4 linked regions of the Homo sapiens genome follow. The protein of the gene in region 3 purifies or fractionates together with the protein of the main gene of each other region. This does not show direct contact. Each region holds a gene or a part of one and is shown on either strand. Other genes may lie near its edges.

Region 1 (3,500 bases), on a different chromosome or scaffold from region 3:
GGTTGAAATGTGTTTCAGTGACTGCAAAGGAAGACTCCAACAAATCCTGAAACCCAGGGGAATATAAATGTCAGAATCTCAAGCCTAAAATGATAAAGCCTGTTTGACGCTCTGATCCTTTAAAATGATTTAATTAATCAAAGAGTAGTAACTCAGAGCTGGAGAGTACTCTGGAGATAGGTCATCTACTGTCCCTATGCATTTACATGCACACACACACACACACACACACACACACACACACACACACACACACACACACACACATTTACTGGTGAGTGGAGAGGATGCCGAGCCCCAGGGGATAGCAATGAATTGCCGAAGGATACACAAATAGATTGTGGCAGGCTGAGGACTGGAATTGCTTCCCCCATTTCCACCACAGTATTTATCCTATGGTAATTTTCAGGCATTCTGTAAAAATCCTGGATCGTCTTAGATATTCTGCAAGATGTGAAATGACTGATCCTCTGTCCAGTATTACCTCCCTTTCCATGATGATTTTCTGAATCACAAAGTTCTTAGTTTCACAGGTCTTGACCACCCATGTTATTTTTTGACAACAACTGACTTTTTCTTTTTTTTTTTTTTTTTTTTGAGACGGAGTCTCGCTCTCTTGCCCAGGCTGGAGTGCAGTGGCAAGATCTCAGCTCACTGCAACCTCCACCTCCCAGGTTCAAGCCATTCTCCTGCCTCAGCCTCCCGAGTAGCTGGGATTACAGGCACTCGCCACCACGAATGGCTAATTTTTCTTATTTTTAGTAGAGACGGGTTTTCACCGTGTTGGCTGGGCTGGTCTCAAACTCCGGACCTCAAGTGATCCGCCCGCCTCGGCCTTCCAAAGTGCTGGGATTACAGCTGTGAGCCACCATGCCTGGCCAACAAATGACTTTTAACTCTTTCTAAAAGCAAAGTTATTCTTCAAGGTTGACTTTATATTCCCACTGGTGTTGAAGATAATTTCTAACAATGAGTTCCAAAAATGATGTGTGCATTCAGAATGACCCTGGCCTATGGTGCCCCATCTGGGTGAACAAATTAGAAAAAGACACCTCGGCCGGGCGCAGTGGCTCACGCCTGTAATCCCAGCACTTTGGGAGGCCGAGGCGGGCGGATCACGAGGTCAGGAGATCGAGACCACGGTGAAACCCCGTCTCTACTAAAAATACAAAAAAGTTAGCCGGGCGTAGTGGCGGGCGCCTGTAGTCCCAGCTACTCGGGAGGCTGAGGCAGGAGAATGGCGTGAACCCAGGAGGCGGAGCTTGCAGTGAGCCAAGATCGCGCCACTGCACTCCAGCCTGGGTGACAGAGCGAGACTCCATCTCAAAAAAAAAAAAAACAAAGAAAAAAAAAAAGAAAAAGACACCTCCTCTGTGGTGATGCAGTCCTGTGGGTTCAGGACGGGGCAGGCAGATGCCTCCATTGTGTGAGGATAAGAGGTGGCCACTTCTCCAGATGCAGCCCTGAGCCAGGCTCTCCAGCTCAGCGAGCAGAACTTTGGCTGGTTCCCTGTCCCTTTGCACCCCTTAGCCACAGGCATCGCATGGAGCTGCACAACCAGATGTGGGGCCCTGAGCAATGGTAGCATTGGTAGAGAATACTTACTACCACCTCCACCCACACCGCCTTCTATGGTGATAACCCTTTTCATTCTTGGCCTCTAGCCCCATGGCAATAGGAACTTGAATAAGTTCTTTCATGTTTGAAAAAGAATATGAATACAGGCCGGGGGCGGTGGCTTACACCTGTAATCCCAGCACTTTAGGAGGCCGAGGTGGGCAGATCACAAGGTCAGGAGTTCGAGACCAGCCTGATCAACATGGTGAAACCCCGTCTCTATTAAAAATACACACACACAAAAAAAAATTAGCTGGGCGTGGTGGCAGGCGCCTTTAATCTCAGGTACTCGGGAGGCTGAGGCAGGAGAATTGCTTGAATCCGGGAGGCAGAAGTTGCAGTGAGCTGAGATCTCACCACTGCACTCCAGCCTGAGTGACAGTGCGAGACTCCATCTCAAAAAAAAAAAAAAAGAATATGAATATAATAATTAGTCTATTTTCTCAAGCATTGAAGCATGGCCAGAAGGAATTGGCAAGTAGGAAGCATTGCAGGCTGACTGCTGGGAGCCAGTGTGTGCGTGGTTGAGTGTGCAGGCTCAGGAGTCGTGGCCTAATCATCTCATCTCTGACATTATTAGTGAGGTGTCCTCGGCAAGTTGCTTAAACTCATGTGTCTCAGTTTTCTCACCCATAAAATTAGAATAATAATACCTTATCTGATAAGAGACCTAAATTTGTACTTGATAGATTGTTTTTAACATGTGCTGACTTCATTTCTTTGAATTCTTTTGTAAGAACTCCTTACAACTTAATATCATCATCAACAACCCCCCTCCATGTCTTCAACCTCTTCTGTGACTATTTTCTTCTCTTCATCTTCTTGCTTTGCCAGAAACCTGGCTCTCCCCTGATGCTGCAGTCCCTGTGGTCCTCTTGAGTGGGGGCTGTTCTCTCTCTTAGCTTGTCTGTATCACTTGGTTCATAGGTGGAGTAGGTGTCTTCCTTGCTCATCATGTGACTTTCAGATCATGTTCCCTGCCTCCTCCTAAAGCATTGAGCTTTGACTCTCCTGTCCTCAGACAGGGCCTCTGACCACTTCCAACTGTGTCTGCCTACCAACCCCTGGTTACTCCCTCTCATTTGAATAGCTGAGCTCCTTCCTCCCTGTCACTCTCTGCAGCATTATTCTTGTCATAATTCCTGGTAACTGCAGGATCCACATTGACGATCCTTTTGGGACCTGGTCCTTGGTGCCTCAGCCTCCTCTTTTTCAATGATCTTGTTCTCCTCCTCATCTTAGCTGCTGATTCTCATACCCTAAAATGCTGGCAGCTGATCCACAATCACACATTCAAACATCTTTCTCCAACTACCACCTCCTGTCCGAATCTCTTCTGCTAATGTACTGATCTTACAGCCCTGCAACCTCACTACCTTTCAATCCATTGATCCTCCTGCCTCTCCACTATCTCTAACCCCCTCAAGTCTCCATTTCTCTAATTACCTGTCTTCAACCCAGGGTCAGTCATTCCATACATTTCCAAGCCCAAAGCTCTTTTGCATTTCTTCCAACTCCTTTGGCTGAACCACAGCCCTGGCTCAATCTGCCTCTCTGTCAGGCTGTGCTTGTCTCCACACAGCTGACAATGGCTGGAGGAAAGCATGCAACCATGCTGACTGCTCTCCCGCTCAGCTGGTGACTGGGTTTTTTAATGTCAGCCCAAAGATAACTTCCACCAGCTCCAGGAACCTGCATCTGCACCATATCCTGCGTCTTCTCTCCATGTCATCTGGTGAGCAGTTCATGATCCATGTTAAGGCACCCTTCCCACAAGGCTTACTCCCATAGGCAAGGCCTTTGAGCTTACTGTGTCCTCTGCCTGGAACCTTCCTTCCCCTAGATGTCTGCATGGCTCTATTCCTCTCATCCAATATGTCTTT
Region 2 (3,500 bases), on a different chromosome or scaffold from region 3:
GGATGTATTGTACAAAGGCTGTTAGGACATAGCATCATTCAGTAGGACAAGGGCTATGTGGGTTTATAGAGCTATGTAGGAACTTTGGACAAATAACTGTGTTGGATAAGTTAGTATGTTACTTTCCAAAAAGCATAACAAGGAAAGAGAGGGTTATGTTTATTTATTTATTTATTTTTGGAGACAGGGTCTCGCTCTGTTGCCCAGGCTGGAGTGCAGTGGTGAGATCTTGGCTCACTGTGACCTCCGCCTCCTGGGTTCAAGGGATTCTCATGCCTCTGCCTCCTGAGTAGCTGGGATCACGGAAGTGCCCCACCACACCCTGCTAATCTTTGTATTTTTAGTAGAGAAGGGGTTTCGCCATGTTGGCCAGGCTGGTCTCAAACTCCTTAGCCTCATGTGATCTGCCTACCTTGGCCTCCCAAAGTGCTGGGATTACAGATGTGAGCCACTGTGCCTGGCCAGTTGTATTCAAATTTTCTCCTTATTTGAAGGAAGTTTTAAGAGGTGATTGATAAAAGGAAGAGAAGAGGGCTTAGCAACGTGGGGGAAAGAGGACATTTTTCCCTTAAGAACGTGGAAGAAGGCTGGGCACGGTGGCTCACGCCTATAATCCCAACACTTTGGGTGGACAAGGTGGGTGGATCACCTGAGGTCAGGAGTTCGAGACCAGCCTGGCAACAATTAGCTGAGCGTGCTGGCATGTGCCTGAGCATCAGATTAGGAGATTATGCCCATGCAGCTCAATCTTTCTTTTTAAATGATAAAACGGTGGCTAGGTACGGTGGCTCATGCCTGTAAATCCCAGCTCTTTGGGAGGCTGAGGTGGGTGGATTGCTTGAGTCCAGGAATTTGAGACCAGCCTGGGCAACATGGGGAAACCCCGTCTCTCCAGAAAAAAATAGCTGAGTGTGGTGGTTCGTGCCTATAGTCCCAGCTACTTGGGAGGCTGACCGGGAGGATCACTTGAGCCCAGGAGGCGGAGGTTGCAGTGAGCCCAGATCACGCCATTGCAGTCCAGCCTGGGCAGCAGAGCAAGACTCCGTCTCAAAAAAAAAAAAAAAGGGAAAGAAGTTATCTTACGATTAAAATGGGTAGAATTTTTCATAAAACAATAGTTGTCTTAAAATTAGTGAAACATAGTAATTTCATGAGAAATTTTGTATTCCAAGTGTGCTTTTTAGCTAGTGTTTGTAAATAAATATAATGAGATACCTGTCTGTATAGGTAGGGCTTAAATGCTTATGGATGGAAGGTTATTTGATTGTATCTCAAGTGATGTAGAGGTGGAACTAGCAGAGACTTTCCAAAGGATAAATGTGGGTAGATTGAGCAGCAAGCACTTGGTAAGTCTTAGTGTTTGAACGTGCTAGAAATTTGGACTGTCACATCACTCCAATCAGCCTTGTGGTCTGTCTTCTTCATCTTCAATTTATATATATATATTTTTTTGAGAGTTTTTGAGACAAGGCCTGTCTCTGTTGTTCAGGCTAGAGTGTAGTGGTGTGATCTCAGCTCCCTGTAACCTCTGCCTCCTGGACTCAAGCCATCCTCCCACCTAGGCCTCCCTAGTAGCTGGGACTACAGGTGTGAGCCACTACCCCTGGCTTATTTTTGTATGTTTTATAGAGATGGGCTTTCACCATCTTGGCCAGGCTGGTCTGGAACTCCTGAGCTCAAGTGATCTACCTGCCTTGGCCTCCCAAAGTGGTGGAATTACAGGTGTGAGCCACCATGCCTGGCCTCTAGAATTTTGTATTCTAACATTTTCCCCTTAATTCCTAGAAAAATGTGGATGAAGAATTTTGCCATGTTGATTGTGTGAACGAATGGTTGCACCTCTTAAGGAAAAAGCCTCATTTGATACTGCTAAAAGGACCAGTGGGAGGGGGCATGTGGCAGCCGGTCTTGGCTAGCTCAGGAGCCTAGCAGACTTTCTGCTAAATAGACTTCCTTCCATCGCCTCTCTCTGCCTTTCTTTCTCAGCATAGAAGTGGCAAAACAAAGACAAAACCATTGTATGTATTTCATGGTGATAACTAACTTGATAAATGGGTCAAGCTTGTCAAATGTCAGAACTTTATTTGATACAGCATAGTTGTAAAAGTGAAGTGGCTCTTTTTTAAGAGTTCTTATTATGGGGGAAAAAAGCCCAACAAAGCAAATAACAAACAAAAAAGCAGTGACTGAAGATATTTTGAGACTGCCTGAGCTGGACTGCCTGAGCTGGACTCTAAAAACTAAAGTTTTTCTTTTCCTTTTTGCTAATCTTATTTTGGATGATTTGTTTGGTATAAAATCTGTCATTGAGATTTACAACCCCCCCCCCCACCCTACTTATTTTTTTTGAGACAGAGTTTCATTTTGTCACCCAGACTGGAGTTCAGTGGCGCCATCTTGGCTCACTGCAACCTCTGCCTCCCAGGTTCAAGCCCATTCTCATTCTCCTGCCTTAGCCTCCCAAGTAGCTGGGATTACCGGCGTGTGCCAGCATGCCTGGCTAATTTTTATATTTTCAGTAGAGATGGGGTTTTACCATGTTGGCCGCCAGGCTGGTCTGAACTCCTGACCTCAGGTGATCTGCCCTCCTTGGCCTCCCAAAGTGCTGGGATTACAGGCGTGAGCCACCGGGCCTGGCCAAGATTTACTATCACTTTCTGAATCATTTTGTACAATTAACTGTAACAGGTGTTTTTGTGATATTCTGTTTAACATTCTTTTTTTGAGATGGAGTTTCGCTCTTGTTGCCCAGGCTGGAGTGCAATGGCGTGATCTCGGCTCACCGCAACCTCTGCCTCCCAGGTTCAAGCGATTCTCTTGCCTCAGCCTCCTGAGTAGCTGGGATTACAGGCATGCACCACCAAGTCCGGCTAATTTTGTATTTTTTTTTTTTTTTTTTTTTAGTAGCGATGGAGTTTCTCTATGTTGGTCAGGCTGGTCTGGAACTCCCCACCTCAGGTGATCCACCCATCTCGGCCTCCCAAAGTGCTGGGATTACAGGTGTGAGCCACCGCGCCAGGCCTCTGTTTAACATTCTTACCCTGAATTACATTTTGTTACTTTCACTTTTATTTACACTAATTTCTTGATAGTTGTACATTCTTGATCATTGTCCTAGAAGATTCTTACAGCATAAAACTATGGACTTTTGAGAAAGAATGCTAAAATTGCCAGCCCTAATTGCTCAATATTTTCAGTTTCTTTGATCACTGTGAAGTGGACAGGGTATACTGTTTTCTTCACCAACTTCCTTATCACAGACATCTCCCCCTTTCATGATATCCCTGGTCATTTGCCATTTTGTTTTATTTTTATTAATTTTTTTCCTTGGCATGTGAAGTAAGAGCTACATTTGCCCTTTTGGTTTACTATTTTTAGGCCCCTTCTCCTGTGGCTATTTGTATACAGTTTCCCAAGGTAATACGACATGTAGGCAACTCATAGAAATGAGCTATGCTTATTAGAATCCACTTAGTATTCACCTCCAGAGCTAGCAGAGC
Region 3 (3,500 bases):
ATTAGGCCAATTAGTAACCCTACAATGACCTCTAGGTGTTTAAGTGAAAGGAAGAGTTGCACATCTCTCACTTTAAAAGGAAAGCTAGAAAAGATTAGGCTTAATGAGGAAGGCATGTTGAATGCCAAGACAGGCAAAAATCTAGGCCTCTTGCACCAAACAGTTACCCAAGTTGTGAATGTAAATTCTGGCAGGAATTTATAAAAGTGATACTCCAGTAAACACATGAAAGATAAGAAAGTGAAATAGCCTTATTGAGATAAAGTTTTAGTAGTCTGGAGAGAAGATTAAACCAGCCACAACATTTCCTTAAGCCAAAACCTAATTCAGAACAAGGCCTAACCCTCATTAATTCTATAAAGGCTGAAAGAGATGAGGAAGCTGCAGAAGAAAAGTTTGAAGCTGGCGCAAACAGGTTCATGAGGTTTTAGGAAAGAAGCTGTCTCCATAACACAAAAGTGCAAGGTGAAGCAGCCAGTGCCGGTGGAGAAGCTGCAGAAAGTTATCCAGAATATTTAACTAGGATTATTGATGAAAGTGGCTATGCTAAACAACAGATTTTCATCGTAGATGAAATAGTCTTCTATTGGAAGAAGATGCCATCTAGGACCTTCACAGCCATAGAGGAGAAGTCAATCCTGACTTTAAAGCTTCAAAGGACAGGGTGACTCTCTTGTTAGGGGCTAAGGCCACTGGTGACTTTAAGTTGAAGCCAATGCTCATTTAACATTCTGAAATTCCTACACATAGGCTCTTCCTGTGCTCTCTAACTAGAACAATAGAGATATGCTGAATGACAGCACATCTTTTTGCAGCATGGTTTACTAACTATTTGAAGCCCACTGTTAGGATCTGCTGCTCAGGAAAAAAAATATATATATATTCCTTTCAAAATATTACTGCTCATTGGCAATGCACCTAGTCACCCAAGAACTCTGATAGAGATGTACAAAGAGATAAATGTTTTCATGCCTGCTAACATACCGTCCATTTTATACCCCATGGATCAAGGAGTAATTTTGACTTTCAAGTCTTATTATTTAAGAAACGTATTTCACAAAGCTATAGCTATGATCAGTAGTGATTTCTAATGATTTCTAGTGATTTCTAATCTAGACAAAGTAAATTTAAAACCTTCTGGAAAGGATTCCCCATTTTAGATGCCATTAAGAGCATTTGCAATTCATAGGAGGAGGTCAAAATATCCACATTAGCAAGAGTGTGAAAGAAATTGATTTCAGCCCTCCTGGATGACTTTGAGGTGTTGAACACTTTAGTGGAGAAAGTAAGTGCATATGTGGTAGAAACAGCAAGACAACTATAATTAGAAATGAAGCTTGAAGATGCGACTGAATTGCTGCAATCTCATGATAAAGCTTGAACAGGCTGGGCGCGGTGGCTCATGCCTGTAATCCCAGCACTTTGGGAGGCCAAGGCGGGCAGATCACCTGAGGTCAGGAGTTCGAGACTGGCCTGAGCAGCATGGAGAAACCCTGTCTCTACTAAAAATACAAAATTAGCCGGGCGTGGTGGCACATGCCTGTAATCCCAGCTACTAGGGAGGCTAAGGCAGGAGAATCGCTTGAACCCGGGAGGCGGAGGTTGTGGTGGGCCGAGATCGCGCCATTGCACTCCAGCCTGGGCAACAAGAGTGAAACTCCATCTCAAAAAAAAAAAAAAAAAAAAAAGCTTAAACAGATGAAGGGTTGCTTCTTGTGGATGAACAAAGTGAATGGCTTCTTGAGATGGAACCTACTCCTGATGAAGATGCTGTGAACATTACTGAAATGACAACAAAAGATTTAGTAAATTACATAAACTTAGTTGATAAAGCAGTGTCAGGGCTTGAGAAGATTGACTCCAATTTTGAAAGAAGTTTTACTGTGGGTAAAAATGCTGTCAAATAGCATTGCATACTACAGAGAAAACTTTCATGAAGGAAAGAGCTGATCTATGTGGCAAGCTTCATCATTTTCTTATGTTCATACATTGCCACAGTCATTTCAACCTCCAACAACCACTGCCCTGATCAGTCAGCAGCCATCAACATTGAGATGGGATCCTGTACCAGCAAAAAGATCACTATTCACTGAAGGCTCAGATGATTATTAGCATTTTTTAAGCAATAACTTTTTTTTTAAATGAAGGTATGTACATTTTCAGACATAATGCTGTTGCATACTTAATAGACTACAGTATAGTTAAACATAACTTTTGTATGCCCTGGGAAACAAAAAAATTGATGTGATTCTGTATTGTGAAATTCACTTCATTGTGGTGGTCTGGAGCTGAACCTGCAAAATCTCCAAGGTATGCCTGTGGTAAGATCCAGATAAAAAAAAAAATAGCATAGATGAATTATTAGGTATTTTATGATGTTATAGAGTTTTGCAAGAATTTATTTTTAAGTATATTATTTTAACATATTAGCTTTGCTGTTTGTATTACTTAGCCATCCCCTCTGTCTTTCAGATCACATAACCATTACCCCAAAAGATCCCCAGTGGGTAGGAGCCTGGTGGCTTGGCTATCTAATAGCAGGAATCATAAGTCTTCTTGCAGCTGTGCCTTTCTGGTATTTACCAAAGAGTTTACCAAGATCCCAAAGTAGAGAGGATTCTAATTCTTCCTCTGAGAAATCCAAGTTTATTATAGATGATCACACAGACTACCAAACACCCCAGGGAGAAAATGCAAAAATAATGGAAATGGCAAGAGGTAAGTCAAATTCTTGATTTTGAAGTATTTTCATTTTTCTGTTGGGGCTTAAGGAGATTTATAAATTACATCCCTCTCTTCCCTTCGTGTATTAAAAAGTTGAGAAACCATATCAGAAGCAAAAATGGAAATTGATGTCAGCTTTATTACTGAACAACTGATTGCAGTACACGACCAAAGAGCAAAGGCTTGACAGCCATTCCTGCTGATGTCTCCACCCTCTCACACCTCCTCAGTTTAGATCCTACCATTGTCTCTACCCAGGATTGCTGCTTCCTGTAATTCTGTGTATACAGGAAATAAAAGGCTTAATCTTCAAGGTTGGCAGCCTTTCAACAGATAAGATCTATTCATTTGAGAGATGTGTATCAATGCATGTCTCTCACCAATGATCAAAGGGGTGAGTGTTCTGTAGGCAAAAACCCAGTGTTCTAATGAACCCCCTTCATGGAAATGAGCAGCCCCTCATGATATTGGTCCCCCTCTTCTTGTCCCTTCAAGCAATATTTACATTTATAGAAATTCTTCACATGTCTAATTGGTAGGCTACATAATAGGAAAAAGGGAGAACACCAATGCTCATTTCTAACACTAAAATTCATATATTAAATGGAGATAACTCTCATATTTCTTTCTCTTTGACCACAAGCTAAGTTTGAGGAATAGAGACAAGAAAAGTGAAGGTCTTTATGTCCTGCCTGTGGCTCCCAGCTAGATGATGAGGGAGTATTCTCATCCTTTTCGTCTTTTGCCCACATCAGTTAGAGGAATCTGTTCTTGTC
Region 4 (3,500 bases), on a different chromosome or scaffold from region 3:
TTTTAAAAGCAGTAAAATGCACTTAGCAGCTGCTTTCCACCCCACTTTATTCCAGTTCACCTTATAATATCAAATTAAATTCCAATTAAAAGTTCCATATTTAATTTTTTATTCAAGCCAAAGAAAGTGAGGCTTATAACAATAAACAAGTAAGACCCATTTATCCCCCTCAAACCTGATTCGTGGCCAGTCTTATGTTTCTGCCCTCTCCCTCCTGGTGGTATCATTCAGAATAGAAAATTATCGTATGTTGGGTAATACACTTTCTTCCTCCTGAGCTGTGCCCAAGCATTAACACTCTCTAGTATTTCTGCCTACCTTAGAAGAGGAAATAGTTGTTTTCAAGGACAATTTCTATGACACATACAGTGTTTCTGTATAGGTTATAGACCAATATATTTTATTGACTGCATTCTGGAAAACATTAGAATTATATATTAATAGAATTATTTATTGTTCAGAATCCAGAATCAACGGACATTTTATATGCATTTTGCCTTTCTAACCTGTGATTGTGAAGTTGGATTTGCTTAGTACAAAATTTAGCCACACAGGAAGAAATCTGTATTTCTTTTCTAGGAAGGAGAGGACAAGAAGCCAGAATCAATGGTAAAAGCTATGTCTTAAAAAAAGGCACAGTGCATTAAAAGAATCCCAGCATTTACTTTTAGTTCATAATAATTTTGTCTTTTTCCCCTTTGGAAATCCCTTAGAAATCCAGTTTGCCAAAGAATAACTTTAGAGAGACCTAGAGAGTAGGAGCTATTCCAGTACATGTCAACACAGTGATTTTTCCTTCCTTCAGGGAAAAAAAAAAAAAAAAAAAAAAAAAAAAGCAAACTATCTCTTGGGTACCTTCTGTAGGGAGGCTGGTGGGAAACTGAGAAGTCACTGCTCTTCTGGTGGTAGTTAGGACCCTGAACTGGGTGGTTGTCGCTCCTACGGTTGTGGTGGTTCGAGAAGAAGTTTCCACTGGTTCTGTATTCTCACACATCTTCTCTTTTGACTAGTAAGAGAAAAGAAAAGGAAAACAAATGGAGTGATCACAAATCTATTTTTAGAACTTACATCAAAGAAGCTGGGCTGTAAAGCACAAAAGCCTCTCATATCAAGACAAGGAATAAATTACTTTTGTACAAGACTATATTAATGATTTTGCTAATTTATGAAGTTTATAAAATAGGAAAGAGAAAAAGATGGATGGAACAAGGCATTTCCCTTTTTAGATATTTAGGTTTCATCATTTACTGCTGTTAAGCTTTCATATTACTGTTTACCTTGCCCTAAATTTTACATTGGTATATTTATAAAAGACACACTGTCAAAAGGGAAAATTTATACTAGAAGAAAAACAGGTGCATAAAGATAAGGTTTAAAACATACTCAGGTTTGTGGAGAAAAAGTGCATTCCTTTCGTATCAAACTGACAATGCTAAATCCGAAATATTTGCTAACTTCCCCATACTACTTCATTGTTTCAAAAATCATCTGTCACAAGTTGAATGAATGTCTAAAATTTTGTTTTCCTTTATGAAATATTCAAAACCACATAAGCAAAGGATTGAACAGAACTCTTGTAATCACTCAGCCTATTTTCCTCCTTAGCAGAGCTATATTGAAAACATCAGGAAATGAGACATAGTGAATTTTTTATTTTTAATTTGTGAAAACAAATCCTACAACCTTCACTGGTAACAACCTCCAACATCCAAACTTTTATAGCTTAGAAGTTGGTGTTTCTATCCACCTTTTGTGCCGCAGTGGACTCCCTCTCTCAGGTGGGCCTTGAGTAGAAAATAACTATTCTGGACATGAGTGGTTCTCATCCCACATTTTAAAATTATTGTTAAATAAATATCATTCTTAAACTTCTCTCATCATTAGTGGAGCGCTAGGTGCCTTTCCCCTTGTTAATGCAGACTTCCTGAGACAGCCTCCTTTTCATTAATAGGATATGAAACAGGTTTATTCTCCACTTCAAGTCTAAACATACTAGGGTCTCATTTAATTCCCCAAATTCCAGTTCCTGCACCTCTGAGCCCCATTAATCTAATTATTTCCTTTCAGATACCACTTTAGTTGTCATCCCCACACCCTGGACTATATCTGTAGTGGAAAATGTTTTAGATCTGAAATCATAAGCTCAGTTATCCTTTTTCCATCTATCCCTGTACCTGCGAACTCCAATTCTTCTTATTCTTTGACTACTTAGAAAGCCTAAGAAAATGATTTTGTTTTTAAGTTTCTTTTTCCCCCATTACTTCAACCACTCATTTCAGTAGCTTCAAGCATCTTGCTCTATTTTTTTATTTTTTTTTTTTTTTAGTTTTTTTTTCTACAACACCTTTAAAGAAAAGATCTGCCTTTTCCCTGCCTGCTCCAAAGCCAGGCACAGCTGGAGAATAATCACACAGACCCGCCATGGGGGCTCCACAAACATCTCCTGCATCCTTAGCAGGGCCGTGCATACCACTTGGCAGCATTGCTGTGTCTTGCTAATCACCTCTCCCATTATGCTCAGTATGAATTTCAAGCTCTCTCCACTTTACCTAAAACTGCAATCCCATCATGATTCTCCCGGTTTTACTCCTTGGGTTCACCTTCCATTTCCTTGATAAATAGGCATGATCAGCAAGATTTCTTTAAATTTCTTAGTGAATCAGCATACTTACTTGACTCTGGGCTGACCTATTCTTTCCTTCTGTGATAATGGATGGGGACCTTTCCTTATAGCCATCCTTTCAACCTATTTCTACCTATGTCCTAGCTCAACTCAGCCCACCTTCACAGGTATTGTGAATTTGCTTAGGTGATCATAGTCCTTTCTCTACAATATTTGCCACCCCTAATTCTCTGCTGGCTTCTTATCAACAACACTTAAAGGTACACAAGCATGCCTAATCTTATTTTGCAAACCCAAATTCCAGTTTGCAAAGGGAGGCAGTCCCAGAAGAGGGACTGCCTCCCTCTTCTCCCCAATGCATCCTGACATTATACTGCTTTCCCTCCATTCATACGCAGTCATATTTCCAGAGAGATCAGTCTGCCTTGGTCTTCTCAGACTCCCAGCTTTCCCTTTTATGACAATCTTGCTCTTACCTAATCCAACTGAGTTGAAATTTCTCGTACCAATGTTTCTAAATATCTCCTTAGCTAAATATCCAACATCTTCCATGGTGTCCTACTGACACCTCATCAGCCTATGGTGCAGATGTCCACTCCCCTGTCTTGGTTTCTGTGACACACCCTCTCCTCAATGTTCTGACACCTCCCTCACAACTCCATCTCAATTTCCTTTTATTTATGTCAATTCCTTAAGTGTTGGGGTGGTTCTTATGGATCATTCTTGCTCTGTCACTTCATTCTATGCATTATCTTTTGCAATCTCTTCTACACCCATGACTGCAATGAACATCTTTATGTTGATTATTCATAAATCTATATTTCCAGTCCACATTCCTCTTTTGGATTTCAGGCCCAAAAAGTCATCTATTGACCAG

Evidence for each region.
Region 1: the proteins of SLCO1C1 (region 3) and CPVL purify together in Homo sapiens (affinity purification with mass spectrometry; one large-scale study listed by BioGRID and IntAct). This does not show direct contact.
Region 2: the proteins of SLCO1C1 (region 3) and UGGT1 purify together in Homo sapiens (affinity purification with mass spectrometry; one large-scale study listed by BioGRID and IntAct). This does not show direct contact.
Region 4: the proteins of SLCO1C1 (region 3) and PLXDC2 purify together in Homo sapiens (affinity purification with mass spectrometry; one large-scale study listed by BioGRID and IntAct). This does not show direct contact.

Annotation. Positions count from the first base shown.
Region 1 is NC_000007.14:29,066,538-29,070,037, reverse strand, and holds part of CPVL (probable serine carboxypeptidase CPVL isoform b precursor), read left to right. Parts: intron 1-3,500. UniProt on the Homo sapiens protein: May be involved in the digestion of phagocytosed particles in the lysosome, participation in an inflammatory protease cascade, and trimming of peptides for antigen presentation.
Region 2 is NC_000002.12:128,097,700-128,101,199, forward strand, and holds part of UGGT1 (UDP-glucose:glycoprotein glucosyltransferase 1 precursor), read left to right. Parts: intron 1-3,500. UniProt on the Homo sapiens protein: Recognizes glycoproteins with minor folding defects. Reglucosylates single N-glycans near the misfolded part of the protein, thus providing quality control for protein folding in the endoplasmic reticulum.
Region 3 is NC_000012.12:20,719,332-20,722,831, forward strand, and holds part of SLCO1C1 (solute carrier organic anion transporter family member 1C1), read left to right. Parts: intron 1-2,472; coding exon 2,473-2,718; intron 2,719-3,500. UniProt on the Homo sapiens protein: Mediates the Na(+)-independent high affinity transport of organic anions such as the thyroid hormones L-thyroxine (T4), L-thyroxine sulfate (T4S), and 3,3',5'-triiodo-L-thyronine (reverse T3, rT3) at the plasma membrane.
Region 4 is NC_000010.11:20,214,932-20,218,431, reverse strand, and holds part of PLXDC2 (plexin domain-containing protein 2 isoform 1 precursor), read right to left. Parts: intron 1,007-3,500; coding exon 856-1,006; intron 1-855. UniProt on the Homo sapiens protein: May play a role in tumor angiogenesis.